7 linked regions of the Homo sapiens genome follow. The protein of the gene in region 1 interacts with the protein of each later gene in a pairwise test. Each region holds a gene or a part of one and is shown in the gene's direction. Other genes may lie near its edges.

The links.
Region 2: the proteins of RNF11 (region 1) and VDAC2 interact in binary tests that used the Homo sapiens proteins (3 or more experiments, as listed by UniProt).
Region 3: the proteins of RNF11 (region 1) and WWOX interact in binary tests that used the Homo sapiens proteins (3 or more experiments, as listed by UniProt).
Region 4: the proteins of RNF11 (region 1) and PRPS2 interact in binary tests that used the Homo sapiens proteins (3 or more experiments, as listed by UniProt).
Region 5: the proteins of RNF11 (region 1) and LPIN1 interact in binary tests that used the Homo sapiens proteins (3 or more experiments, as listed by UniProt).
Region 6: the proteins of RNF11 (region 1) and RNF14 interact in binary tests that used the Homo sapiens proteins (3 or more experiments, as listed by UniProt).
Region 7: the proteins of RNF11 (region 1) and LHX6 interact in binary tests that used the Homo sapiens proteins (3 or more experiments, as listed by UniProt).

What each region holds. Positions count from the first base shown.
Region 1 is NC_000001.11:51,242,629-51,246,722, forward strand, and holds part of RNF11 (RING finger protein 11), read left to right. Parts: intron 1-4,094. UniProt on the Homo sapiens protein: Essential component of a ubiquitin-editing protein complex, comprising also TNFAIP3, ITCH and TAX1BP1, that ensures the transient nature of inflammatory signaling pathways. Promotes the association of TNFAIP3 to RIPK1 after TNF stimulation.
Region 2 is NC_000010.11:75,220,596-75,224,689, forward strand, and holds part of VDAC2 (non-selective voltage-gated ion channel VDAC2), read left to right. Parts: intron 1-147; coding exon 148-375; intron 376-1,656; coding exon 1,657-1,807; intron 1,808-4,094. UniProt on the Homo sapiens protein: Non-selective voltage-gated ion channel that mediates the transport of anions and cations through the mitochondrion outer membrane and plasma membrane.
Region 3 is NC_000016.10:78,102,264-78,106,357, forward strand, and holds part of WWOX (WW domain-containing oxidoreductase), read left to right. Parts: intron 1-4,094. UniProt on the Homo sapiens protein: Putative oxidoreductase. Acts as a tumor suppressor and plays a role in apoptosis. Required for normal bone development. May function synergistically with p53/TP53 to control genotoxic stress-induced cell death.
Region 4 is NC_000023.11:12,794,044-12,798,137, forward strand, and holds part of PRPS2 (ribose-phosphate pyrophosphokinase 2), read left to right. Parts: intron 1-4,094. UniProt on the Homo sapiens protein: Catalyzes the synthesis of phosphoribosylpyrophosphate (PRPP) that is essential for nucleotide synthesis.
Region 5 is NC_000002.12:11,749,388-11,753,481, forward strand, and holds part of LPIN1 (phosphatidate phosphatase LPIN1), read left to right. Parts: intron 1-4,094. UniProt on the Homo sapiens protein: Acts as a magnesium-dependent phosphatidate phosphatase enzyme which catalyzes the conversion of phosphatidic acid to diacylglycerol during triglyceride, phosphatidylcholine and phosphatidylethanolamine biosynthesis and therefore controls the metabolism of fatty acids at different levels.
Region 6 is NC_000005.10:141,975,274-141,979,367, forward strand, and holds part of RNF14 (E3 ubiquitin-protein ligase RNF14), read left to right. Parts: intron 1-3,029; coding exon 3,030-3,557; intron 3,558-4,094. UniProt on the Homo sapiens protein: E3 ubiquitin-protein ligase that plays a key role in the RNF14-RNF25 translation quality control pathway, a pathway that takes place when a ribosome has stalled during translation, and which promotes ubiquitination and degradation of translation factors on stalled ribosomes.
Region 7 is NC_000009.12:122,204,549-122,208,642, reverse strand, and holds part of LHX6 (LIM/homeobox protein Lhx6), read left to right. Parts: intron 1-3,862; coding exon 3,863-3,883; coding exon of another isoform or gene 3,884-3,942; 3' UTR 3,943-4,094. UniProt on the Homo sapiens protein: Probable transcription factor required for the expression of a subset of genes involved in interneurons migration and development.

The sequences.
Region 1 (4,094 bases):
GGGATGGGCTTGTTTTTTTTAGAGATGGAGTCTCACTTTGCCCAGGCTAGTTTCGAACTCCTGGGCTCAAGTGATCCTCCCACCATGTCTCCCAGTGTTGGGATTACGGATGTGAGTCACTGTGCCCTGCCTGTAATGGTATATTAATGCCTCATTTTCCTGATAACTTACGAAGTTAAATTTAGATAATTAAAGGGTTGTGTTTTTTTATTAGCATTTTGTTTAACATTTGGGTGGAAAATATCTCCAAATTTATTTCACGTATCTAGGCCTTATTATACAATTATTCAGCTTTTAACAATTTACCTTTTTGAAGTTTTATCCCTCCCCTTCTTTATGCTCAAGAAGTTCAGCCTTCTTATTGAGGGGCAGATCAACTAACTCCACCTTTGTTAATAAAGCCTTCACTGACCATTTTTTTCCTGTCTCTGCTGATTTGTCATGTACAGTTTTTTTGTGTTTGTAACATTTATCTGGAAATCATATATTGCCTTATTAGCTTTTGTTGCTTTAACAGTTGTTTCTCCACATCAGTTTCCTCAAGAATGAGAATGATACATTAAACTTGTAAGATATCTTAGTGGAGTAGAATGTTACCTTCCATATTGTAGACACCCAGTGAATATTTGATGATAGACTAAATTAGAACTGTGACTTCTTACCTTGTAAGGTCACCATCATAATTGTCCTCATCAGTTCTTACAGCAACATAATTGATGTCTCCTCCTCATTCATTTTATACCATGTTGCCAGATAAATTTCATCCCGGATCAGATCACTTGCCTCATAATCCTTAATGATTGTTATTATTATTATTATTATTTTTTGAAACAGAGTCTTCACTCTGTTGCCCAGGCTGGAGTGCAGTGGTGCCACCTCAGCTCACTGCAGCCTCCGCCTCCCGGGTCCGAGCAATTCTCCTGCCTCAGCCTCCCGAGTAGCTGGGATTACAGGCATGCGCCACCACACCCAGCTAATTTTTGTATTTTTAATAGAAATGGGGTTTCACCATATTGCTCAGGCTGGTGTGCAACTCCTAACCTCAGGTAATCCACTCACCTTGGCCTCCGTAAGAGCTGGGATTACAGGCGTGAGCCACCACGCCCGGCCCTTAATGATTCTTTATTAGGACTAACCACTGAAGATATCTGACTTAGCATTCAAAGTCATGATTTGGCTCTACATATACTTTTTCAGCTCTTCATAGCCTTGTGCTTTCTTTTATACAACCTGTATACTCCAGTCATACTGAGCAGTTTGCTGTATTCCATGTATGTCTTCTGCTTTCCTGTCTTTGCCCATTCTGTATCCATTGCCCAGAATGTTCTTCCTTAATCCTTCCCAGTCTCATTTCTAATATCCAGGGCCCAGTTCAAATGCCAAGAATCCACGAATTCTGATTTCTCCTACATACACTTTTCTTAATCTGAACTCCTTTATTCATGCACCATTCTTAAGACACTTTACCCTTTTAATTTTAATTATTTGTGACAGTGTCACATCTGCTCTTTTAGAATTCAAGTCTGGTTCATTTTCACATTGCTAGAACTACAATTTTCACAAAGCACGCACTTATACTTTAGTGAATGTAATGATCAGCATTTTGCTGTAAGAGTGTGCAATTGTATGGTTGTTAGTGTCTATTAAGCATTCCCAGAATCCTGTGCTTTAGTGTTTGGCCTATCACTTCTAATTTATAAAGTACGTTGAGCTTTGGGAAAGTTAATTTCATTATATATTTTTTGAATTTGTTTTTTTTTTTGTTTGTTTGTTTGAGACGAAGTCTCGCTGTGTCACCCAGGCTGGAGTGCAGTGGCGCGATCTCAGCTCACTGCAAGCTCCGCCTCCCGGGTTCACGCCATTCTCCTGCCTCAGCCTGTCCCGAGTAGCTGGGACTACAGGTGCCCGCCACCACACCTGGCTAATTTTTTGTATTTTTAGTAGGGACGGGGTTTCACCGTGGTCTTGATCTCCTGACCTTGTGATCCTCCTGCCTCGGCCTCCCAAAGTGCTGGGATTACAAGCGTGAGCCACCGCGCCCAGCCTGAATTTGGTTTTGTGTTCCATGAAGTTCAGCTTGCCTAGGTGACTTTTATAAATAAGTAACCAGTTATTTGTTATTTGTGTGACCCCATTGTTGCAGGATTTTTCTTTGTTTCTGCCTGACCTCTCATTCTGAATGTGCTTTAATAAAGGCTGATTTTTTGGCATTAAGATTGTATGCATCACTAAGAGTAAGATAGTCTGTTCAGAGTTTAATTCTAGAGCTAATTATAGGGTAACTTGAGAAGATGGAGATGGGATGGTGAGTTACTTGGTACATAAGATCTGAGCACTTGATTTTCTTAAAATATTTTTTAGGTAATAGTAGAAACCTTTGTTGCAGAATTTTGATCTTTAAAAGTTTTAATAGAAATACTTATGTAGATTGGGATTCTTTTTCTTTCTTTGAGACATAATCTTACTCTGTTGCCTAGGCTGAATGTAGTGGCATGGTCACGGCTCACTGAAGCCTCAACCTCACGGGCCCAAGCCATCCTCCCACCTCAGCCTCCTGAGTAGCTGGGACTATAGGCGTGCACCACTTTGCCTGGCTAATTTTTATTTTTTGTAGAGACGGGTCAAGCAGTCCTCCCATCTCAGTCTCCTGAATAGCTGGGACCACAGGTGCATACCACCACACCCAGCTATTTTTTGTATTTTTAGTAGAGACGGGGTCTCACTATATTGCCCAGGCTGGTCTCAAACTCCTGAACTCAAGCAGTCCACCCACCTCGGCCTCCCAAAGTGCTGAGATTACAAGTGTGAGCCACCATGCCCACCCAACAGCCTTTTTTTTTGGAGATGGAGTCTTACTCCATCGCCCAGGCTGGAGTGCAGTGGTGCAGTCTCAGCCCACTGCAACTTCTGCCACCTGGGTTCAAGCGATTCTCATGCCTCAGCCTCCTGAGTAGCTGGGATTAGAGGCAAGCACCACCACACCTGGCTAATTTTTTGTATTTTTAGTAGAGATGGGGTTTCACCATGTTGGCCAGACTGGTCTTAACTCCTGACCTCGTGATCCACCCACCTAGGCCTACCAAAGTGCTGAGATTACAGGCGTGAGCTACTGGGCTGGACACCAACAGCCTATTTTTAATAACCCATATGAGTACAGGACAGAAATACATCCCTAACTCTGTACCTGAAGTAAGGAAGGTAATACATAAAAGACATATTTGCAAACGACTTGAGGCAAGAAAAGAAATACAACACATCTCTAATTCTGATTGTATCTGCAATCAACCTCTTATCACTTCCCTCTTCATGTGCAGAATTTACCTTGGCTGAGACACAGTCAAGAAAGAAGACAGGTGGCCAGGCACAGTGGCTCACACCTGTAATCTCAGTACTTTGGGAGGCTGAGGTGGGCGGGTCACCTGAGGTTAGGAGTTTGAGACCAGCCTGACCAACATAGAGAAACCCCGTCTCTACTAAAAATGCAAAAATAGCCGGGTGTGGTGGCACATGCCTGTAATCCCAGCTACTTGGGAGGCTGAGGCAGGAGAATCTCTTGAACCCAGGAGGTGGAGGTTGTGTTGAGGCTAGGTTGCGCTGTTGCACTCTAGCCTGGGCAACAAGAGTGAAACTCCATCTCAACAACAACAACAAAAAAGAAGACGACAGGCTGTGTGCAGTGGCTCATACCTGTACACCAGCACTTTGGAAGGCCAAGTGGGAAGGATTGCTTGAGCCCAGGAGTTCGAAACCAGCCTGGGCAAAATAGCGAGATCTCGTCTCTACAAAAAAATAAAAAATTAGTCAGGTGTGTTGGCACATGCCTGTAGTCCCAGCTATAGGCTGAGGCAGAAGGAATGCTTGAGCTCAGGAGTTGGAAGGTATAATGAGCTGTGATGGCACCATTGCACTCCAGCCTGGGCAACAGAGTGAATGGGGGCATGGGGAAGGCCAGGTGTGGTGGCTCACACCTGTAATCTCAGCGCTTTGGTAGGCTGAGGCGGGAGGATTGCTTGCATCCAGGAGTTTGAGACCAGTCTAGGCAACACAGTGAGACTCCCATTTCTACAAGAAAATATTTAGGCTGTAAGTGGAGA
Region 2 (4,094 bases), on another chromosome or scaffold:
ATTGAGCTGACTTTTTTACTCCCTGTTATTGTATTGCTGATTTTTACTCCCTGGTCATACTGCAGTTTATTTAAGTCTGTTTTGTGCTCTCTTGTGCAGAAGTGTGTGTAAATTTTTCCCAATGACATCAGTTTGTTCTTTTTCCAGAAAGAAAAGTGGTAAAATCAAGTCTTCTTACAAGAGGGAGTGTATAAACCTTGGTTGTGATGTTGACTTTGATTTTGCTGGACCTGCAATCCATGGTTCAGCTGTCTTTGGTTATGAGGGCTGGCTTGCTGGCTACCAGATGACCTTTGACAGTGCCAAATCAAAGCTGACAAGGAATAACTTTGCAGTGGGCTACAGGACTGGGGACTTCCAGCTACACACTAATGTGTAAGTATTTCTTTCATAGGATACTGTGATGTGGGCCCTCAGAGGATGATTTTGATGTCTGTCATCTTATTGATCTGGGTGCACCCTAAAGGATTTCTCATAACATTTAAAAACAAAATCATTCTTGGTCATTTCTAGGGTGCCCCTTGAAAGTTTATAGTAGAAGACTGTTAGTCTGACCTTTGGTGCTGAGAGAGTAAATGTTCATTTTATATGGGGTTTAATGTGCTTTGTATTTTTACAAGAGGCATTATATATTGGCAGACTGCTACCAGTACATTCATTTTACTTAATTATTTTGATGTGTGAGATGCTGACTTGATAGGATTGCCTAAAATGTATGGTGTTTTGTGGTTGGGTTTTTTTTTCTTTTTCTTTTTTCTTTCTTTTTTTGTTTTGGTTCAGACAGAGTCTTGCTCTTTTGCGATCTCGGCTCACTCCAACATCCGCCTCCCGGGTTCAAACAATTCTCCTGCCTCAACCTCCCAAGTAGCTGGGACTACAGGCGTGTGCCACCATGCCTGGCTAATTTTTGTATTTTTGGTAGAGACGGGGTTTCACCATGCTGGCAAGGCTGGTCTGGAACTCCTGACCTCGTGATCTGCCAAAGTGCTGGGATTACAGGCGTGAGCCACTGTGCCCGGCTATTGTTGTTTTTTTGTTTGTTTGTTTTTAATTATTTTTGTAGAGATGGGGTCTTGCTATGTTGCCCAGGCTTGTCTCAAACTCCTGGCCTCAAGCGATCCTCCCGCCTCAGCCTTCCAAAGTGTTGGGATTATAGGCGTGAGCCACTGCATCCAGCCTGGTGTTTTTACCTAGCCCAAACTAGATAGATACATAGAAAGTACTTAAAATGTTTTTCTTTCCATTGTAAAAATTCATTGGTAAATAACAGAAGCACAAAGAAGAAAACCTACGTTTCTTACAATCATGCCAGCTAGGTATATAATCTTTGTTAATGTTGTGGTTCACCTTTTTATATGTGTGTGTATATATACTTATATATAAAATACGTAACCAAAAGGCTGTTTGAGAACCTCTTGCATGTTTAATACAGTGTGATAATTCCACTGAATGGATATTCTGTGGTTCATTTTACCAATCCCTGTATGGGTATGGGTTGGGGAAAAAAACCTGTTAAAACTTGCAAGTTTTCAGTGGAACACTAAAGACCCACTTGAGCTGTGGTTTTTTATTTAAATGTAATGCTACAAATCAGCCTGTGCCTTAGACATTATTACATTGTCTATTCTAGATCTACTAATTTAAAATATCTTATAGCAATGATGGGACAGAATTTGGAGGATCAATTTATCAGAAAGTTTGTGAAGATCTTGACACTTCAGTAAACCTTGCTTGGACATCAGGTACCAACTGCACTCGTTTTGGCATTGCAGCTAAATATCAGTTGGATCCCACTGCTTCCATTTCTGTGAGTACTTTTGTGGACTTAGAATGGGGGTTTTGGTTGTGGGAATGAGTCTTTGGGTATACTGAATTATGTTGAAAATTTGAACTGATTTCACACAGTCCCCAGTTTACAGATAGATTAGTTTTAGATTTTGAAATGCGCTTTTTTGATGGATACAGTGTTAGACGTTTTATTTCCAGGCCAGGCTGGTGGAGTTTGTTTAACCTCAAAAGCTGCCGAGTTAATGTTGATGATAACCTTGAGCCATAGGCCTGTCTAAGTCCAGGTATAGCTGGTGTTTGGTCCCTGAGTGGTTCTTACTGTGTCAGAAATAATAGTGCTTTTTTAAGGCTCTCTGTTGTCGAGGCTGGACTGCAGTGGCACAATCACGACTCCCGGCACCTTGACATCCTGGGTTCAACCTCAGCCTCCTACTATTCCCAACTAATTTTTTGATGTTTTTTTGTAGAGATGGGATCTCCATATGTTGCCCATCCTAGGCTCAAGCTATCATCCTGTCTCAGCCTCCCAAAGGAGGCTGTTGGGATTATAGGCATGAGCCACTGCACCTGGCTAGTATTTTAATCATCACTTTGTCTTTTTTTTTTTTTTTTCTTTTTTGAGATGGAGTCTCTGTCGCCCGGGCTGGGGTGCAGTAGTGCGATCTTGGCTCACTGCAACCTCCGCCTCCTGGGTTCAAGCAGCTCTTCTGCCTCAGCCTCCTGAGTAGCTGAGATTACAGGTGCCCGCCACCACACCTGGCTAATTTTTTTGTATTTTTTAGTAAAGATGGGATTTGTTGGCCAGACTGGTCTCAAACTCCTGACCCCAAGTGATCCACCCGCCTCAGCCTCCCAAAGTGCTGGGATTACAGGCATGAGACACCACAGCTGGCCGCCTTCTCCATTTCTAATTGCACTACAGCAATAAAAACCTCAAGATTCATACAGTACACTATTCTGTTACTTACATTGATGTTCTTGGATGTCTGTGGCATTTTAACAGATTTAATGTAAGTGGAAGAAGCTTCTCTCAGCTACTAGGAGTTCATAGTTAAAATGGGAAGGCAGCTTGGGACCCCTGTGTCATTTAATGACTCCTGGGAATTAGTTTGGAAATGTACCTAGCCTTTCCCACTTCAGTAATGTTAGCTGCCACTCCAATTCAGCAGTACCCAGAAGCATTGCTTAATGCTCCTTGTGATATTAGGAAGTATATATTTGGTTCTCCTTCCCTCTCCTGGCATAGAACTCCTAAAAAATCCTTGGAATCCCGAAAGTATTAAGTATCTTTTTGTATGCTAATGAGTTTTGACTGGTGGCTGGCCACCTTTAGGTAGCTTCGGGCTGGAGGCTAGTCAGTGGAGAGACCAAGGTGTGATTAGAGGGGGTGGGGAGAGGGGCTGTAGGTTTAATTGTTCACCAATGGCTAGTGGTTTAATCAGTCATGCCTGTATAATGAAGCCTCATGAAAACCCACAAGGACAGAGGTCAGTGAGCTAGGTAGCTGAGGTTACTGGAAGGTGGCATGTCTGGAGAGGGCATTGAAGCTGTGTCCCTTCCTATGTTTTGCACTGTACATCTCTTCATCTGTATCCTTTGTAATATCCTTTATTAAAACTGGTAAATGTAAATAAAGTGTTTCTTGAGTTCTGTGACCTGCTCTAGGAGATTAATTGAACCCAAGAAGGGGCTTGTGGGAACCTCTGTTTAGAGGTGCCAGGTCAGAAGCAGAGTTAAAACAACCTGGGGCTTGCAGTTGGCATCTGAAGTGGGAGGAGGGCAGTCTTGTGGGACTAAGCCCTTAACCTGTGGCATCTGATGTCTCCAGGTAGAATTAGAGGACATTTAGCCAGTGTCTGCTGCAGAAATTATTGCTTGCTTGGTGTGTGAGGAAAGCCCTCACACATGTGGTCACAGAAGCATTCTGTGTTGTGAGAGAATAGTAGGAGAAACTGAGTTGGTTTTTTTCTGTATCCTCAGAATTGATGTCAGGATTGGGATTTGCTAGAGTGGCTCTAGCTAGAGTGGCTCATCGAAGCATGGTTTAGGAAGAAAAAGGATAAATGGATGGGAAATGAGGAACTTTTGACTCCTGGGTGGTCAGATGGTCACCCCTGCTATGGAGCCACAACTGTGCTGTGCTCAGGTACTTAAAAATTACCAGTGGAATTCAAAGATAGATCCAACTCCAAGGGAGTTGGTTCACTGGGTGCATAAGGAAACGCAAACAATAAGAAACAAACAAAATATACAATCCCTTGATTATTGTTATTTGTGATAGCTAAAATCAAAGTGAAAGAGTGCTG
Region 3 (4,094 bases), on another chromosome or scaffold:
GGTAGAGGGAACAGTGAGAGGAGAGACCCCCTGCATGGCCTGTCCAGGGGCCTGTGATCTTTGTGAGGGTCCAGGAATGTGAAGGTTAAGGCAGGGAAGGGAGGACCCATTTCAAGGATTTCTGTGCCTTGCCGAGAAGCTTGGGCTCTGTTGGCAGAGCCAGAGAGTGGCATTCATTCAGCTTGTGAATTCTGGAAGAATTTCTGGCTCTGGAGAATTAAAGGGACATTTCCAGCAGCAGAGCTCCAGTAGCCTTTGCAGGGACGGAGGCAAGCTCCTGAGCGGGCACTTGCTGTTCCTCTCACCTGTACATCTGTTGGGGAAAGGCTCCTTCTCATCCTTCAGAGCTGAGCTTACATGTCACTGCCCAAGAGACCTTCTTAACTGTGGGTGTCCCCTCGACCTTGTACTAGTCACCTTGTTTCTCTGCTTCTTCGTGCTTAGCCTTGGCTGTGTACTCCTCCTTGTTGGCCCTGTCTCCCTTGCCCAGGTTGCAGATGTCATGGGGCAGCTTGTTCATCTGAGTGTCCCCAGTGCTTGGCACCCAGAAGCCATAAGATGAGCCCCTGTGGGATGAGTAAATGAATCACCTTGGGAGGGTCAGCCGCAGGCTTCTGTGGGTGGGTGGGTGGTGCACTGGGCCCCAGAGTACAAAGATGCACATGACCCGCTTCCGGCTTCCTAAGCCCACCTCTGCCTCTGGCTCTGTGGGGCGTCTCCTCCTTTGCCACTCAGCCCCAGAGGTGCTTCTGCTTCCCTGCAGGCTTGCCCTGGAGCCTGGCGCTAGGGCCCTGGGGCTCCCTTGCTCCTGCGTGCCCCCTGCGCCTGCCTTCCTGCTGCCTGGCCTTTCTCCCATCTGCTTTCTTCCTGAGTGGCCCCTGGCCAGGGGACTCGGGTGCATACATGGTTTCCAAACGCCTTTCCTCCAGCCCTCCCGACTAGTGTCTTAAATCTCAAGCTGGCCTCTCTGGCTCCGCTGTTTTTTTTTTTTTTTTTTTTTTAATTTAATTTAACTTTAAATTCCGGGATACATGTGCAGGATGTGCAGGTTTGTTACATAAGTAAACCTGTGCCATGGTGACTTGCTGCACTTGTCAACCCATCACCTAGTTGTTCAGCCCCCCGTGCATTAGCTATTTATTGTATACACCAGCTGAGATGCCAGGGCTTGGCTGGCTCTCAGCTGGAGGGCTCACTCTCTGGACCTTGTGTCCGTCCCTGCTGGCCCTCAGTTCTCTGGATCAGGGTTGAAAGGCTGAAATTCTTTGGGTGTTAGCTTAGGATGCCTCTGATCCATCCTAACCCGACATTCCCTTGATCTCTCCTGATCTGTGAGCATCCTGGCCCTTCTTTTCTTTTCAGTTTTAATTTTTGCGCTGGCTCCAACCCCTTTTCATTCCTGACTCTGGAAGTGACACTTGTTTTTCTCTTGGGGTTTGGGAAACTTTGTGGTTGTTCTTTCTAGGAGGCTGCTCTTTGAGTCATTTCTTTTCCATATTGTTTCTCCTACTGTAGCAGGGCCATGGCCAGGGATAGAGGCTGTAGCTCCCACTGAGACCTCGGGGTCTGGTGGAACCCGGTCTTGTGTGGGTGCTGTCGGCCTCTCCTGCTTTCCCACCTGCCTCACGGTTCACTTGTGTGCCTCAAAGGCACACATGTCCTAGCACTCCAAAGCCCACCAGGGTGGGCTCCCAGGGGTGAGGTCGAGGTAGACCGGGAACCCAAGAGAGCTGGTGGGCCTTTCTTCTACCCCTCTCCCCTCACAGTCTCAGAGCAGCCCCTTCATGGGAGATGGGAAGTGAGGGACAAGGTCTCAGTGTCAGAGCCGTCCTTGTTTGCCCTTCCCCGTGCCTCTTATGAAGCTCAGGCCTTTTGGCAGTCAGAGGCCTCAATGGTGCCTGTGTCCACAGGGCTGGCTGTCCTCACCGTGAAGTCTAGATCTCCCTGCTAACTTACACTGTGCTCAAAACACACACACACACACACACACACACACACACACACACACTGGCTGTCCTCACTGTCAACTCTAGATCTCCCTGCTAACTTACACTGTGCTCAAAAAACACACGCACGCACGCACGCATGCACGCACATACACACACACACACACACCCATAGGCTGGCCATGGTGGGAGGCCAAGGTGGGAGGATCGCCTGAGCCCAGGAGCTCGAGGCTGCAGTGGGCTATGATTGCATCACTGTACTCTAGCCTGGGCCACAGAATGAGACCTTGTCTAAAAAAAAATTAACAGAAAACACCCCATACGTGGAAGTGTGGTATTCACATAATATGATGTTCACTTAAATTTGAATCCTTTGGTTTAAGTTTAGATTACTCTTAATTATCTTTTTAAATGACAAGCTCGTTGAAAGAATAAAAAATCAAAGACGGCTTCTATTTAAAGGAGAATAGGAGAATGCTTAGGGGACATGTGTTCTAATTTTCTCTTCATTAAAAAGTCATTTAAGGTTATAATTAAAAAGAACATCTTTTAATTAATTTTTATATTTATTAAAAAAAAGTCTTCTATTGAAAGGTACAGTTCTTAGTTCTTCCCGTGTTAACTCACTCGGTTCTCTATAACCCCAAGAAGTAAGTGCTGTTATTGTCCCCATCTAAACTGTTGAGGAAACTGAGGCATGGGATTAAATGACTTCTTCAAGGGCAGAGTGGCTGGCAAATGGGAGACCCAGAAAACCTTGGCAGTTGGGCTTCAGAATCTTCACGACCAAATTACTCTCTCTGCTTCAGCTGGTTCCGGATTCTTCCCCAGGGATGGTTGTGTCCTGCAGGGGACGGCTGGCAATGTCTGGAGATGCTTTCTGTTGCCACAGCTATGGGACTGGGGTATTGGCATCTGATGGGCAGAGGCCAGTGGTGCCCAAGGCAGCCCCGCAACAAAGAATGATGCAGGCCGGGTGCAGTGGTTCACGCCTGTAATCCCAGCACTTTGGGAGGCCGAGGCAGGTGGATCAGTTGAGGTCAGGAGTTCGAGACCTGCCTGGCCAACATGGTGAAACCCCATCTCTACTAAAAATACAAAAATTATCCCGGCATGGTGGCAGGTGCCTGTAATCCTAGCTACTCAGGCTGAGGCGGGAGAATTGCTTGAACCTGGGAGGCAGAGGTTGCAGTGAGCTGAGATTGCACCACTGTACTGCAGCCTGGGTGACAGAGTGAGACTCTGTCTCAAAAAAAAAAAAAAGAATGATCCAGCCCCAAGTGCCACCAGCAGTGAGAATAAGAAACCCTGATTCAGGCATGTTCTGTGAAAGTCAAGAACGTAGGTTGACAGAGTTTGTTTTGTTTTTTAAATGTCTTTCTGAATAAATAAAAACTGTTCTGAGTGAGTTTTGTAGTTCCTTTGGAAAGTATTCATTCTGTTTGTTTACATTTGTGCGCCTGCTGTGGGCCAGGCATGAGGCTACATGTCTGAGGGCCCAGCTTCACCTTCTAAGGGCTGGGAGGCTCTTTCTATGCCAGCCTGCCTGCCAACAAGGCTCAGCTTCCACTGTTAAGGGTCATTTTGTGGATTTTTTTATTTTTTATTTTTAGGTTGAGTCTTGCTTTTTCGCCCAGGCTGGACTGCAGTGGCGTGATTTTGGCTCACTGCAACCTCCACCTCCCAGGTTCAGGAAATTCTCATGCCTCAGCCACTCAAGTAGCTGGGATTACAGGCATGTGCCACCATGTCTGTCTAATTTTTGTATTTTTAGTAGAGATGGGGTTTTGCCATGTTGCCTAGGCTGGTCTCGATCTCCTGGGCTCTAGCGATCCTCCCGCCTCGGCCTCCCAAAGTGCTGGGATTACAGGCGTGAGCCACCGTACCCCGCCACTCCATGGATTCTTGAGGGCAGAGTTTTTTGGAGCCAGGCTTCAAGCACATTTGATGTGTGCCTATGAGATAAAGACTGCTTTTAATGGCAGGCAAGGAAAATGCAAGTCCATCTCTTAACTTTCTTGAAGAAGCTTGAGACACAGCTCTGCAAGGGGCTGGAAGGTTTCATGTTATTGCCAATGCTTGGTTTATCTGATTGCTGTTGCCATTCATTTTGAAGGAGAAGCAGGAGTTGGTATACCAATATTCCCA
Region 4 (4,094 bases), on another chromosome or scaffold:
GCAAAGTTATACAAGGTTATCGGTTACCATGTAATAAATAAAGAGCTTAATGGCTTAAAACAGTAATTGTTGATTTGGCTTACAAATCTGCAATTTGGGAAGGGCTCAGTGAAGAAAGCTTGTTTTTGCCGCGTATGGTCACAGCTGAGGCTGGTCACAGCTGAGGCGGCTAACTGGGGCTGGAGGGTTCTTGAAGATGGCTCACATGACTGAAGTTGTTACTAGCTTTTGCCTGGGAGCTTGGTTAGGAACCTCAGCTCCTCTTCTTGTAGGCCTCTCCATGGGGCTGCTTGAGCTTCCTTACAGCATGGAAGCTGGGTTCTAAGAGCACATGTTCCAAAAGACAGGACATTGAAGCCACCAGTCCATTAAGGACTGGGCTTGCAAGTTGGTGTATCATAATTTCTGTCATATGCTGTTGGGCAAGTACAGAGCCCTCTCAGATTCAAGGGCGGGAGACTAGACCCTGCTCCTTGATGGGAAATGTGTTAAGAGTCTGTGGCTATCTTTTAGTTACCATGCCCGTTTATTGTTGAGTCAGTGACGCTCTTCAGCGTTTTTATTTGGGGGTCAATAAAGATCCTCTGGCAGAATGGCAAATGGATGCTGCCTTCTAGCCACAATTTTTTAAAGACCTAGAATAAAGGTAGTCATGATCATCTTTTTGAGTAGAAGCAGGACTAGCTTTAGGGGAAAAGTTGCCATGGTGATGATATTCTCTGTCCTCCCCTGGACTGCTAGTCATATGAGAACTGAGGTTCCTGAGTAAAAACAGGCCAAAGAATCTAATCTTGTGGGATAAACGTCATAAGACCAGGAGTTGGCAAAGTTTTTCTGCAAAGGGCCAAATCGTAAATATTTTAGGCAGTGCTAGCACATGTAGTCTCTGTTGCTGCGGTATCTTACAGTTCTGTAAGTTACGGTAATGTCTGTCACAGGTTAGCAGGGCTGTATTCTCTTCTGAGGCTCTAGGGGAGAATCTGTTCCCGTGCCTTTTCCGGTTTCCAGAGGCAGCCCACATTCCTTCACTATTGGCCTCTTCACCTTCAATGTCAGCAACAAAATGTTGCTCTGACCCTGCTTCTGCTGTCTCCCTCTTGCATTTTTAAGGGCCCCATGATTACAATGGGCCAATTTAAATAATCCAGGATAATTTCCCCATGTTAAGGTCAGCTGATGAGCAACCTGAATGCTATCTGCAAATTTACTTCCCCTTTGCCATATAAACTCACATATTCAAAGGATTAGGATGTAGACATCTTTAGGGGGCCATTATTCTGCCTACCACGCCATTCTTAACTCACAGGCCATAGAAAAACAGCCTATGTGCTGTGTTTTGTCAACCTCTCAGCTATATAATACTGTACTTGATTTCTGCTGTAGTTCATTTTGTGCTGCTATAACAGAATACCAGAGACTGGCTAATTTATAAACAATAGAAATTTGTTTCTCACAGGTCTGGAGGCTGGGAAGTCCAATACTGAGGGGCTGGCATCTGGCAAGGGCTTTCTTGCTGCATCATCCCATGGCAGAAGGGTGGAAGGGCAAGAGAGCATATTTGAGAGAGAGCAATAGAGGGCCAAATTTGCTAATATAATAAACCCATTCTCAAGATAATGAGCACACTCTAGCAATGATGACGTTAATCCGTTTGTGAGGACAGAGCCCTTATGACCTAATCACCTCTTAAAGGTCTCACCTGTCAATACTCCTATACTGGGGATTAAGCTTTCAACACATGAACTTTAGGGAACACATTTAAACCATAGCAATTTCCAAATTAAGTTTATGTCATAGTTGATGTAGTGTTCACAAAGCAGTTAGATTTAGCTCCTTAGATCTTCAAATAGGAGGGAGCACATAGAACTCTTTCTATCCCCCTCATCCTGTGAGGTTGGCATATTTTCATCCATAGTAGAAGGCGTGCAAGAAGATGTGTGAATGTTATCAAAACTAATTTTCACAACATGTCAACTTGAAAAACTTTATTTTTATTTTCCTTTTCTTTAAAATTTTTTTTAGAGACGGGGTCTTGCTATGTTGCCCAGGCTGGACTAGAACTCCTGGGCTCAAACAATCCCCTTGCCTCAGTCTCCCAAGTAGCTGGGACTGTGGGCATGAGCCACCATGCCCAGCCTGTTTTTAAATTTTCATTAGGTATAATTGGCTCTTTTTTTTTTTTTTTTTTTTTTTTGAGACAGAGTTTCACTTTTGTTGCCCAGGCTGGAGTGCAATGGTGCGATCCCAGCTCACTGCAAGCTCCGCCTCCCGGGTTCAAGTGATTCTCCTGCCTCAGCCTCCCGAGTAGCTGGGATTACAGGCATGCACCACCACACCTGGCTAATTTTGTATTTTTTAGTAGAGATGGGGTTTCTCCATGTTAGGCTGGTCTAGAACTCCAGACCTCAGGTGATCAGCCCACCTTGGCCTCTCAAAGTGCTGGGATTACAGGCGTGAGCCACCGCGCCCAGCCTTAATTGGCTCTTTTAAGAAAACAATTTCATTGAGTATCTGATAGCAGGAGAAGAGAGAAGGATAATTATTCATGTTCCTTATTTGTAATTTTAAAATATTTCATTTTGGGATGAATAAATTTACAGACAATTCTGCCATAATGTGACATATGTATTCCTAAAAATTACCACGCTATGCAAAATCAGGCAATCCAAAACCACAGGGCTTATGAGAAAAATGGGGTTAGGGACATAACATTCAAAAACTTCCTCAGTGACCCATTAAAAAATCATAGGAATGTTATATAGATTGAGCATCCCTTATCAGAAATGCCTGGGACAACAAGTATTTCAGATTTTTTTTTTTTTTTTTTTTTTTTTTGCATTTTGGAATATTTCTATTGTACTTACTGGTTGGACATTCCAAATCTCCAAAAATCCAAAATCCACAATGCTCCAATGACCATTTCCTTTGAGCATGATGTCGACACTCAGAAAGTTTCGGATTTCAGAATTTCGGATTAGGGTTCCTATCAAAATGGTAAAACACTGACATGTATTACATGCTCAAAAAATACTGGCTGGGTGCAATGGCTCACGTCTGTAATCCCAGCACTTTGGGAGGCTGAGGTGGGCGGATCACTTGAGGTCAGGAGTTCAAAACCAGCCTGGCCAACATGGCAAAACCTCCCTCCACTAAAAATACAACAAATTAGCCAGGCGTGGTGGTGCATGCCTGTAATCCGAGCTACTCGGGAGGCTGAGGCAGGATAATCACTTGAACCTGGGTGGCAGAGGTCGGAGTGAGCTGAGATGTCACCACTGCCCTCCAGCCTGGGCAACAGAGTGAGACTCTGTCTTTAAAAAAAAAAAAAAAATTACATAAATATTATGACAGAGATGGAACTTTCCATTGAAAAATGCCTGAGGTTTAGGGTTCTCTGAAATGACATGAAAAGTTGTGACACCAAATGTGAATGAGTGTGGCTCATTGTCCTCGAGGTGTGTACATGTGTATGTTTGTGTATTTCTAAGTGGCTCCATTCAGCTGGGTACACTGCAGTTTTCTGCAGTCTCGGGATAAGAGGTTGTGCATAAGAAAACATGAAATTCATGCTATGCTCAAATTGTTCCAAATAATATCAATCATTGGAACAAATTTGCCTTTTCAAAACATAGCAGAGCTGACCATCTTCTTGGTTTGGACGCAGAGCTCTGGGAAGGACATGCCTGAGCACACAGCACTATTTTCTGTTTCTTCCCACCAAAGGAATATGCCAGGGATGAGCTGGCTCTCCCTCTCATGTTGGACATCCAGAATTCTGTACCTGGAAATACAGAAACTTCCAGACATGCAATTTTCAAAAACTTAGCTGCTATTTACTCTTTCTCCAGAAGCTACGCAAGGATGCCAACCAGCAAAACAAGGAAGTATACCAAGAAAGAGGATACAGAAAATGGCAAATGGAGTGCAGGAGAGGGGGCAGGGAATCCCCGGATGGCAGCTGTGCACAGGCAGAGAGATAACCCAGGCCTGCCACCCCTGGGAGGGATGCCTGCAAGACGATGAAATGCAGATGGGACTTGAGGCCTCTGATCTTGGGAGATTTTGATTGTTAGTGAAGGGTTTAGGGTGGAATC
Region 5 (4,094 bases), on another chromosome or scaffold:
GGCCCTGGGGCTGCTGGGGTCCGAAGCAAGTGCCCTGACCTCCCTTCCTGTGGGTTCCCTTCCTCTTCCTCTTTCCACAGCTTTCCCCTGTCTGTCTCCCTACCTGTAATTCACCCCAACAAGCCCTTAGCAGCTGGGGTTGGGGTGGGGTCTGTGCAGCCAGGGATATGTTGAGTAGTGAGTTTCTGCCTGTAGAAAGCTCTGGGTCTGGGCTGACCCAGACCCAGGCTGACACTTTTCACAATGAGGTATGTGGCCCAGGAGTCTTAAAACCTCAGCAGTGTCTGGCCCACAGGCTGTTCTGCACACTGAGGGATGCAGGGCGCGTTGTGCCGCTCCCACTCCCAGCTGAGAGGTTGGGAGGAACCAGATGGACTGGGCTCCATCAGGAGAGAAGCCAGAAGCATTTTCACACCGGTGGTCATGGCTACAGGGTCATGGTTACAGTGGATTTTTCAACCCACTGACCAAATGTTGTGATTCTTGCAACAACTTAAAATTTTCGGCTGATGCTGAATGCTGGGGCTTTCCAGAAATAGCCATAGGCTGTTAGAACAGGCACTTTGCTCTGTAAGGAGGCCTGTTTGTTCCTGAGTGTGAGCTGATTTGCATTGGCTCACAAAGTTGACCACAGACCCTGCATGGGAGACACAACCAACACCCCCATTTGCCTGCTGGCACGCACTTGTGCCCCCCTCCCCTCCCCGGCCTCGCTCCCTGGAAGCCCTCGCACCTCTCCCCTTGCCCTCTGTCCCCTAGCCACACACACTCACTTTTTGATGAAGTCGTCCTCCGCGTTCATGGATCTCACTAGGCTGTAGGTCTTCAGTTTACAAGACAGGAGACAAGCAACAAGGGTTTTAGGATAATGGGCACCAGACAAGACAGGCGCCCAGACAACTGTTCTGGCAAAACAATGTCCCACCATTGGACTCTGTGCAATGCCAGAATGCCACCAGTCTCGGGGTGGCCTCTTTGGGCTCAGATTTTGGGCAAATGAGAATGTGGAATGTAGGCATAGCCTTCAAATAGTTCTGTATTCATTTTAACTAGTAATATTCTTTGCCTCTGTCTTTTTGGGAAGGTACTATTTAAATAGGTGATATATACAAAGTCCCCTCTGGCAAGAGACGTTATTCAAAGACCGGATTTTGTCTGGAACCAGTTTGTGGTCACAGAATTAGCACGTGGTTTTTATTTGGTGCATGTGCTTTGAAAAGTACTTTACATTTACTGCCTCACAACAGTCCTATGAGGTGGCTGTGCTGATGTCATCCCTTTTTATAAAATAGATGCGAAACTGCAGTGCAGAGAGCTTAGTAACCTGTCTTTGATCACAGAGTTAGTGGAAGGTGGAGGCAGGATTTGAATACCTCCAGAGCCTGCGCTCTTACCTGCTGAGCTATATTGTCTCCTAATAGTGCCCTGGAACACCCAGGTGATATATGCCCACCTCCCAATTGCTGGGGTGTGGTAGGGGTGGGGGGTAATACAGAAATAAAGTTATAAGGGCAGAGCATTCTTTTTGACCAAGACACGAATTTGGACAGAGGGCTCTTGAAAGTGCGTAGAGAGAATGTGCCATTGGGTCTTTGAAGGAAAAGAACGTCCTGTCCTTAATCAGTGAGCTAAATAATTAAGAGCCAAAGGATCGGAGTCAAAGCCTTGGGCTGTTTTGCTCAGCATAGTTGTCATACCATATTTAGATGTCTACACCCACCTTTATCCAGGCCATTTGTATTTCTTGGCAGGAACGTGAGAACAAGCGTCACCTGGGGTTGTGGTATCTGAGGGTTGCAAAGTGTCAGCGCTGGAGGAGCTGAGTGATCACTCATCTGACCTTCCCTCCAAAGCAGGAGTACCCCTGTCCAGCACCCTGTCCTGTCTCAGTGGTTTCAGTGATGGAGACCCTGAGACTGAGTGGACCAGAGTTTTCCATCCTTCACTCCCAGTTCTCTGAGGTTACTAATAATTGACATGAAATACATGCAGACATAAAAAACACAAGCTAGAAAGCAACACTATGGGAAGTATTTATGATAAAAAGTGAAGATCTCTTCCTCCTTTTCCCAGGCTGGTCCCCAGGGGTGAATCTTGTGAATCTTGTTTTGTATGTATCTCATTCCAGAATTTTTTTATGCATATCAAAATATGTACAAATGTAATTTTTTAAAAATGGGTCCAGCTGGGCGCGGTGGCTCACGCCTGTAATCCCAGCACTTTCGGAGGCCGAGATGGGTGGATTACGAGGTCAGGAGATCAAGACCATCCTGGCTAACATGGTGAAACCCCGTCTCTACTAAAAATACAAAAAAATTAGCCAGGCTGGTGGCAGGCGCCTGTAGTCCCAGCTACTCGGGAGGCTGAGGCAGGAGATTGGCGTGAACCTGGGAGGCGGAGCTTGCAGTGAGCCGAGATTGCGCCACTGCCCTCCAGCCTGAGTAACACAGCGAAACTCCGTCTCAAAACAAAACAAAACAAACAAACAAAAAACCACAATGGGTCCATATTATAAGTATTTTTGTACCTGTTTTCATTCTATATATACATTTTCATGTTAATATTTATGGAGCTACCTCTCTACCATTTTATTATCAGCCTCATAATATTCCATTTTACAATGTGGATGGCCCATAATTTATTAAGCCAGAGTCATACAGATATTAAGTTATTTCTGATTTTCCCTATTACAATTAATGCTACAGTTACTGTTTTTGTACACGGATCTTACTGTATTTGTACAATCAGTTCCCAGCGGTATAGTTGCTAGGGTTTGCCAATAGGTGCCCCAAAAGATGGGCATTGCCACATTGCTTACCCCATTTATGACCCTGTTAGTAGTGAGTGACGATGTCTGATTCTCCTACTTTTCATGGGCCCTGGGGTTTTAATGAAATGCTTTGATTTTGGACCATCTGAAAGGCCTCTTTCGATTCCTGTATCTTTAATTATGAATGGGGTTGAATATCTCTCTCATATATTATTGGCCAAATGTGAACTGTCTATATGTTTTGTCCATTTTTTCTTTTGAGCTGTTCCAAGGCCATTTTTTTTTTTTTTTTGAGACGGAGTCTCGCTCTGTCGCCCAGGCTGGAGTGCAGTGGCGGGATCTCGGCTCACTGCAAGCTCCGCCTCCCGGGTTCACGCCATTCTCCTGCCTCAGCCTCCCAAGTAGCTGGGACTACAGGCGCCCGCCACTACGCCCGGCTAATTTTTTGTATTTTTAGTAGAGACGGGGTTTCACCGTTTTAGCCGGGATGGTCTCGATCTCCTGACCTCGTGATCCGCCCGCCTCGGCCTCCCAAAGTGCTGGGATTACAGGCGTGAGCCACCGCGCCCGGCCTCCAAGGCCATTTTAAACTGACCTTAATCTTCTAGAGGTGGCTGGTGTTGGCAAAAATTGTGGGGTTAGGAAAGCTGTGGCAGGGGTTTTGAATTTTGGCAGTTCCAAGAAAGCAGCGTTTCTTGGCAATTTGTGAAGCCTGGAGATGGATTCTGCCAATTTTGGAATAAATGTGGAATTTTCTAATTTAATCGTGAGGCAAGAAACCATGTGACCTCTGTCACCTCATCCTGACAGTGTCCGCAGTGCTGTCCTTTCTGGAACTGTATGAAATTGCGGTCGTGAATGCTTTGGAGCGTCTGCTGTGTGCTGGAGTTCTACAGATGAGCTTAATTATGGGAACGCCCTCCTGTCCCTGGGCAAGGAGGGGGATGAGCAGGGTGGGGGTGTGCTGGAGGAGGAGACGCCTGCCACTTTGCCACCCTGGAAGCTCACTGCAAGAGCTGCAAAATTTCCCACCTGCCTAACACAGGCAGGGCTTTGGTGGCGGGACCCCAGGGCTGGCTGTTTTTGCTCTTTCATCACTTTTGTCAGGAAGTATTGAAAGACCTTTAAAAGGCCTCTGACTTGCAGGGCCTCTGACCTGCAGGCCTTTTAAAGCATCTCCAGCTTTTCTAGTGAGTTTTTGTATTTTGGACGGGAATGTCTCACGAACCCTGGCATGCCAAGAAAGTCCCCAATTTCCCAGCAGGTAGTGATGGATGCAGAGCTGTGCTCTTCTGTTTAAGAAGCTCCTCAAGGCACTCTGGCC
Region 6 (4,094 bases), on another chromosome or scaffold:
TTTCCTTAGACATTGATACTACTTTTCTCTTAGTTTCTTATCCATTCCTTAAATGAAAGATTCCATTGTAATTAGGACTAAAAATTGAGCTAATGTAGTTATAATAAGCAAATTTTCTGAGTGAATACAATAACTGATTTTCTTTGTAAAAATCTGTATTAATAACAAATAACAGTCAACTGGTATCACGTAGACATAAATGCATACAAGTAGAAATGTGTATAGTTCCTGTAGATATCTCAGTAAGGCTTGAGGCCTTATGTTAAGCACCTCATTTCCTCTGGGTTATATATACTTTTCTAGTAACAACCTCAACTCTTGATTGAGACATAAATATGGCTTGAAGCTAAATATAAATAATATAAAGCATTCTGGGAGAGATAATGAATCAGCAGCTGCTTTTCTAGAAGTCATAATGAAGATCAATAGACTAATGTGTATTAAGACAAAAGCTCAGCCTGTGCAACATGGCGAAACCCAATTTCTACAAAAAATACAAAAATTAGCCAAGTGTGGTGGTGCGTCCCTGTAATCCCAGATACTTGGGAGGCTGAGGTGGGAGGATCACTTGAGCCTGGGTGGCAGAGATTGCAGTGAGCCAAGACTGAGCCACTGCACTCCAGCCTGGGTGACAGACAGAGACCCTGTCTCAAAAAAAAAAAAAAAAGAAAAAGACAAAAGATGTCAGAGTTGCTGACCTCAAGGAATAGCTCATTAGTTTTTCTCTTTGGATCATACAGTTTTCATTTCCCCATCCACCAATCTAATCTTTTAAGTGAGAGTACTTTCACAAACTAGAGCTTATGGTTTAAAAGCAAAATTAAACCTTAAAAAGGATAACACAGGTAGAATAAAAAGGAGTATTACTTTACATTCTAATGTCTGTGCCAGAGGCAACAGATGCAAGACAGTTGATTTGTCCAGGAATATCAAGACTGTTTGGCATTTAGGCCACTGATAGTTGGCTTAATTATTTAGATCTTCATAGTCCTATTTCACCAGAGAGCTTTTCATACTTTACATCCACGCATGTGCGTGCATGCACGTGCATGCACACACACGCACAAAACAGGGACAGATTAACTGGATGCGTGGTTGTGGTTTCAGATTCCAGCCAACCAGCATCTACTTAATGCTGGATTTGGGGGCGGAGGTGTGTGCTGGGGAAGAGAGTTGTTTTATGTGTTACAGCTAAAATTACAGTAGAATTCTTAATCAAATAAATGTTTATGCATATAATTAACATTTTAATTGGTCTCTTATATTCCTTCTTGGTTCAGTTCTTGTTTGTTGCTGTACCCTGATTCCTTGGCATTATGACTCTCACCTGTTAATGGTGAAATTGACACATAGAGCTGTCATTCCCTGAATTGGGGCGGGTAGACAGAGGGAAGTGGTTTTAGTTTTCTAAAACCTTATTCCTTATTCCTCCCCCAATATACTTACACAGTCTCTTTCCCGTCCCCCTTCCATTTACATGCATTCCAGCTGCCTTTCTCTCTCTTTTTTTTTTTTTTTTTTTTTTTTTTTTTTGAGATGGAGTCTTGCTCTGTCACCCAGGCTGGAGCACAGGGGCACAATCTCAGCTCACTACAACCTCTGCCTAGTGGGTTCAAGTGGTTGTCCTGCCTCAGCCTCCCAAGTAGCTGGGAATACAGGCGCCCGCCACCACACCTGGCTAATTTTTTGTATTTTTTAGTAGAGACAGGGTTTCACCATGTTGGCCAGGCTGATCACCAACCCCTGACCTCAGGTGATCCACCCGCCTTGGCCTCCCAGAGTTCTGGGATTACAGGCATGAGCCACCACGCCCAGCCCCAGCTGCCTCTCTTGAGAAGGGACTGGGGTAGAAAAGAGGTTGGAGAATGGCTTCTTCATAGGACTTGGTAGCTCACACAGCACTCATAGCTTCCCTTTTAGTATTTATCACATTTTACAGATGTTAGCAGATTTCTCAAAAGCATGGTTGATTTATAAGGATATTTATGCAAATGTGAAAAATCATTAGTTGTTCAATCTTAACTCATCAATAAGTATTTAAGGTAGTACCTATGCAGGGTTTAGTCAGTGGCACTACACAGAGTGTAAGAAACAGAAAATCTGGTCCCTTTTCATTTGTCATTTAAATTTACAAAATTTGTTTGCCATCTGGAAGGCATATTTTTGGATGTTTACCTAAAAAAGAAAAGCTGCTTATAATTCCTGTGCTCTAGTTAAAAATATTTTATATTTCTAATGGAAAATTCTCCAACATTTGCCTTTCAAATTGAACAGACCACTTTTAAAGAGGAAAATTCCAAATAATTTAATTTTGGTTGCTTAGCTTAGGAAGTGTAAGCTTTCTCTATGGCTGCCAAACCTTGCTGAGGGCTTGTGATTAGGACCAGGGTCAATATCAGGCAGCTTCCCTCCATTAACCAGGATCTGATATAAGCCCAGATTGCTTACTTAAAAGCAGCTTGTAAATCTGAACAAGGACTCTGAGGTTGAATTCTGTTAGTGATTGTTTCAGATGAGTTGACTTTTTGATAAAACTGAAAGAATTAATTTTAAAACTTGGATAGTATTTTTAAACTATTCTTTTTCTAACCATTATTCTAGGATACGAACAGGGCTAGGACTCCTAATGGAAGAAAAATAGTTTATTTTTAGAACTAGATCTCTTTGTCCTACATGAGGTATATGGCAGTACTAAAAGATTAAAGAACAGAAAAAAGTCTTCCATTTCAGTGGCTAAAATGTACAGCTATTTCTCTACCTTACGGAGTCTTGCTATTTCTCTTCTTCTCGTGGTACTTCTTGCTTCTGACTTTATGTTCTACTCTGGCTCATGTTGCCGAATAGTTTAAGAAGTGCTCCAGTAAGAATGTTTGTACTGTTTTGTATGTAGCACAGTGTATCACAGCAGTAAAAAATAGTGTTAGAATAAGGGCCTAACTTGCAAGTGGAAAAGATTTCTAGGGAAACCAGGAGTTGGCAGCAGCATCATCTTTCCAAACTCACCAACATCTTCATGTGTTTTCTCCTAGCTATCTGCTCTATGCAAGCACTTAGACAACCTATGGGAAGAACACCGTGGCAGCGTGGTCCTGTTTGCCTGGATGCAATTTCTTAAGGAAGAGACCCTAGCATACTTGAATATTGTCTCTCCTTTTGAGCTCAAGATTGGTTCTCAGAAAAAAGTGCAGAGAAGGACAGCTCAAGCTTCTCCCAACACAGAGCTAGATTTTGGAGGAGCTGCTGGATCTGATGTAGACCAAGAGGAAATTGTGGATGAGAGAGCAGTGCAGGATGTGGAATCACTGTCAAATCTGATCCAGGAAATCTTGGACTTTGATCAAGCTCAGCAGATAAAATGCTTTAATAGTAAATTGTTCCTGTGCAGTATCTGTTTCTGTGAGAAGCTGGGTAGTGAATGCATGTACTTCTTGGAGTGCAGGCATGTGTACTGCAAAGCCTGTCTGAAGGACTACTTTGAAATCCAGATCAGAGATGGCCAGGTTCAATGCCTCAACTGCCCAGAACCAAAGTGCCCTTCGGTGGCCACTCCTGGTCAGGTAACTGTTTACCCTGCTGATGGTTGCCTCCTAATTCTCTTCCATAAATGGAGATATCATCTCAGGAACTTCCTTGATAGGGCTCATGGGGCAGTCCGAGGCCTTGGAGCCAGCCCACAAGTTGTTTTGCTGTATCCATTAAAAATGCTATGGTCTTAGTCTACTGCTTAAGCAAATGGAATGCTTCCTTTGGCCTTGCAGTGGGCAAGGATGAGTGTTAAAGTAGTTATTAAGTAATTGTGATAATTTACTTTGTATATCTGCTAGTAGGATCCCATAAACCTTGGGGAATCACTAGCTTATTCTTGTGTGAGGTTGGCATCTGAAGGGGACGTCTCTTAGAATGATTAACCAACTTTTTTATAGACTTCAGCAGAAGTACAGCCTACTTAGGTGGTGGTGGTGTTGTTGTTGTTGTTGTTGTTGTTGTTTTGTTTGAGATGGAGTCTTGCTGTGTCACCCAGGATGGAGTGCAGGGGCATGATCTCAGCTCACGGCAACCTCTGCCTCCAAGGTTCAAGTGATTTCCTGCCTCAG
Region 7 (4,094 bases), on another chromosome or scaffold:
CCAGGCTGGTCTTGAACTGCTGACCTCAGGTGATCCACCCGCCTCAGCCTCCCAAAGTGCTGGGATTACAGGCGTGAGCCACCGTGCCCGGCCGAACCTTACATTTTTTAATTCACTGACTTGTTTATTTGGAGACATTTCCTATGTCTTGTCTGTGCCCAGCATCCATGAATCTGTTGCTAGGAGTGGAAACAAGTAAAGTGTGGTCCCTACCCTTGAGGAGGCCAGAGTCTGGAGGGGGAGGCAGATCCCAACAGTTACAATACAGTGTGACAGGGGAAGCCATGGGAGCTGGGGAGGGGGAAGGGGGCAAAGGAGAGAGGCAGGGAAGACTTCCCAGAAGAGGCAACCTCTAAGGCCAGGCCTGAAAGCTGAGGCATCAGGGAAGGCATGAGACACCAGAGCTCTCAGGGAACCCTGAGCCATTCAGCATTGTTGGCAGGCATGTCTGGGAGGATGAGAGGAGGAAAGCGAGAGCCTTGAGGCTGCCAGGTGGAAGAGTCTGTATTTTATGCTGCGGCAGTGTGGGGTCCTGGAGGGCCTGCTGCAGAAACATCACTGTAGCAGTCTTCAGAGACTGCTGGGTTGGAGGACACCCAGTAGGAAGCAGGGATCCCTGGAGGTCAGTGGGTGTGGCAGTCCCTCGGAGGGAGAGGGTCAGAGCATTAGGGCTGGAGTCAGGAGCCCTCCAGTTCAGCAGATCCCGGTCTTGGTGTGCTCGGAATCACCTGGGCAGCTTGTAAATATACAGAGATTCCTAAGCCTCGCTCTCAGAGAGTCTGTTGGGGTGGGATATAGGGATCTGCGAGTGTAATACTCAGCCTGTGTGATTCTAACGGGCAGCCGGGGTGGGGACAGCTCCTTTAGGATGGTACCTCTGGCTCAGCCTCCTGATTGAGCTCAGTACACCTAGTATGTACTGAGCTCTCTGTGCCGGGCACCACAGGAGAATGTGTATGGTGTGGAGGTACAGACAGCCCTGGACAGATACATTTGTAAATAAATGGTAGTGCCTAACGTAAAATCCTGCAGAATCTGTAGTGAGTGAGCATGCCCCAGGAACACCATCGCCGCTGAGACTGTCACATCCATAGGAAGAGCTGCCGTTTGCTGAGCTCCTTCTGTTCAAGGCAGCTACTTCTCACATGGCATCTGGTTCACACCTCCCAGCCACTTTGTGGACATAGAGATGGCCTTCTCATTGTAAAGAGATAAACAGATTCCGAGAGGTGACATGACTTGTCCAGGGATGCAGCGAGTCTGTCGGACTCTGAAGTCTGCGCGGCTCAGTAATCACTTCCTTTTGTGCAGCACTTCATTGTGTACACAGCCCTCTCTCCGACCTCATCCTTCATAGTCTCCCTGGGAGGGTGATTGCGATGACCTCCATTTCACACTTGCAGAAACGGAGGCTCAGACAGAGCAGTGCTCATCCAGAATCACAATGTGAGCATGGGCAGAACTGGCCGGGATCCTAGAGCCACCTGCCTCAGAGCTGTCCCTTCCTGTGGGAGGGGATTCATCCTATTAGACCTGGCTCTGGGACTGCAGAAGTGAGCTGACATGATCCCTGCCCTCAGGGAGCTTGTGGCTTAGCACAGGGTGTGGGCAGTTACATTGCAGGGGAATGGGCAGCTGGAGTAGGCGAGAAACTTGACCTTAGAGGACCCAGAAGAGGAGGCAGTGAGCTCTAGGGGAGAGACAGGGGACAAGAAGAAGGGTGTTCCACATCAAGAGAACCGCATGTGCAAAGGCCCAGAGGCATGGAGGAGCTTGGGCCGGAGGGGACCCTGGGGGACGTTCAGTGTGGCTGAGGTCCAGGGAAGTGGGGAGAGCCGACAGGGGCCACAGAACAAAGGATCATGGAAAGAGGGTCTTGGACATTATGTGGAGGGCAGGGATGGGCCCTGGAGGTACAGAGGGCTGGGCTCAGTGCTTGGAGAGGAGCCTTTGCCTCCTGGTTGCTCAGCTAAGCTTGTGGTTCTGTCTCATTCAGCCTGGGGGATGAGCCATGCTGGGGGCTGTCAGATTTGGCTATAGACAGTTTCTGGCTTCTGGATTTGGCTGCTGAGCCAGAGTTTTCCCTTGCTGGGCTGTGTCCCCAACTTTGCACCCAGAAAGTCTGCATTAAAGTGTCTCTCCCTCCTTCATGACCTTCTGTCCTCTCACTGTCAGGCCTTTCCGCCAGCTCCTAGGGACTTTTCTTGTCCATAACTCTCAAATTCCTGGGGCTTGGTGGGCGGCAGGGTGTGGTATGTGTGTGGCCAGCACAGGATTGTCTGGGCTTTCTTCCAAGTCCTTCCAGGCCTGAGCCTGCCTAGCTGTGAGGAGACTCAGTGTCCCCATGGGGCTGGCCCCTGAACCCACTCATCTAGACCAGCACTGGCCTGGCCAGGAGAACAGTGCTCTGAGCACTCAGGGGAGCATCCCCTGCCTCCACCGCATCGTCATTTGGCCACACACACCTGTGAGGTTCCAGAGCCACATTTCTTCCTGGTTGTGTCCCCTGATCCCACAAATCCAACACTTGGAAAGTTCTTAGAAATCAGGGCTAAGCTGTCATTGATCAGTGGAGGAGACTGAGACCCATGGAGGGGAAGGGTCCTACCAGGGTCGCCACTCTTGAGAGAGCTTTTCCTAATAAGGGCTAAAAGCCAGGCATTCTGGAGGCCAAAGTGGAGCAGTGGCCAGGGTGGGGAAGGAATGCCCACCCTGGCCACTCTGGAGTTAGGCCAGCTCGGAATCCCAGCTCTGCCACCTCCCCTGTGAGATCTGGGAATGCAATTAGTTTCTCTGAGCTGCGGTTTCTACATCTGCAAACTGGGGATAATAATAGTTCCCACTCCGTAGGGTTGCTGCAGAGAATAAATGCATAATGTGTGTAAGGAGCCCAGCACAGAGCCTGGTGCACAGAAAATGCCCCCAGGTGTTGGTTATGATCATGATCACTATTATGGTGATCATCATCATTGCTTTCCTCCATCACCTCCTTGTGATAACCAGTTCTGGGCAAGTAACATTCCTGATCAGAAAAGGGAACAGCCATGTAGTCATGCCCACCAGATGCCCCTCACACTTTACTGTGAAATGACACATTGCCATTGACCAGCCAGCCAGTGATCCTTGACCTGAACTTCAGGGAACTGGCTGTGTCAGCAGCAGTGAGATGTCAACCAAGTGCTAGAGGTGGGAGTGGGAGGGGGAAAGGGACAGACAGTCCTGATCTCCCACTGTGTATCGGGCACCCAGTGTGTCTGAGCCACGCACTTCTAGGCTTCGTGCATGTGAAGATTAAGCGCATGTGAAGTGCTTAGCCCGTGGCCCTGTGGGTAATAAGCAGTCAGCCACTATGGTCACGGTGACCTTGGAAAGGTAGAGGCAATGTGCTTTGGTAGGGAGAGCTTGCTGTGAGCCAGGCCTGGCCTCCAGTGCCAGGTCCTCCTCCTCGCTGTGTGCCCACGAGCTCACTCGCTTCCACCTCTTTGAGCCTGAGTGCCCTCCTTGTAAAACAGAACGTTGGAACTCCCTCACGGGGCTATGGTGCGGCTTCCGTGAAATCAGGCACAGAAGGTGCAGGGTGAAATGCCCAGAAGGCTTTTGCTGCTGCTGTTGTATCTCATTGAATCTCTCTGATTCTCAGAGAGAGATTTTGTCATCCTTGTTTTAAAGATGAGGAAACAGGCTCAGAGAGGTGCAGTGAGTTGCCCAAGGTCCCACAGCAAGTCAGTTGACAGAGCCAGGATTTAAACTCAGATCTGGGCCCTGAGTCCACCCTTCTTCTCTGTGCCTTTGAGGTTCTCTGGGGGGCAGCAGGGTGGGGCAGGCCCCCAGCTCAGCCACCTCCCATGCCCTCCTCTTGCAGGTCATCCTTTTTCAGTACTAACGCTGCCGGCACTTCCGCATCTGCCCGTGGGCGCCCCACAGCTGCCCCTCAGCCGCTGAGATCCAGTGTCCAAGCTGCGGCCAGGAGTCCACCCACCTCCGCATCCACCCCCGTCCGCCATCCTGCCCACCACCAGGTCGGTTCCCGAGGCCTGGCCTTTCCCTCTCCTGCTGAGAACCAGAACCCACCAGGAGCACCACAGAGTCCTCCT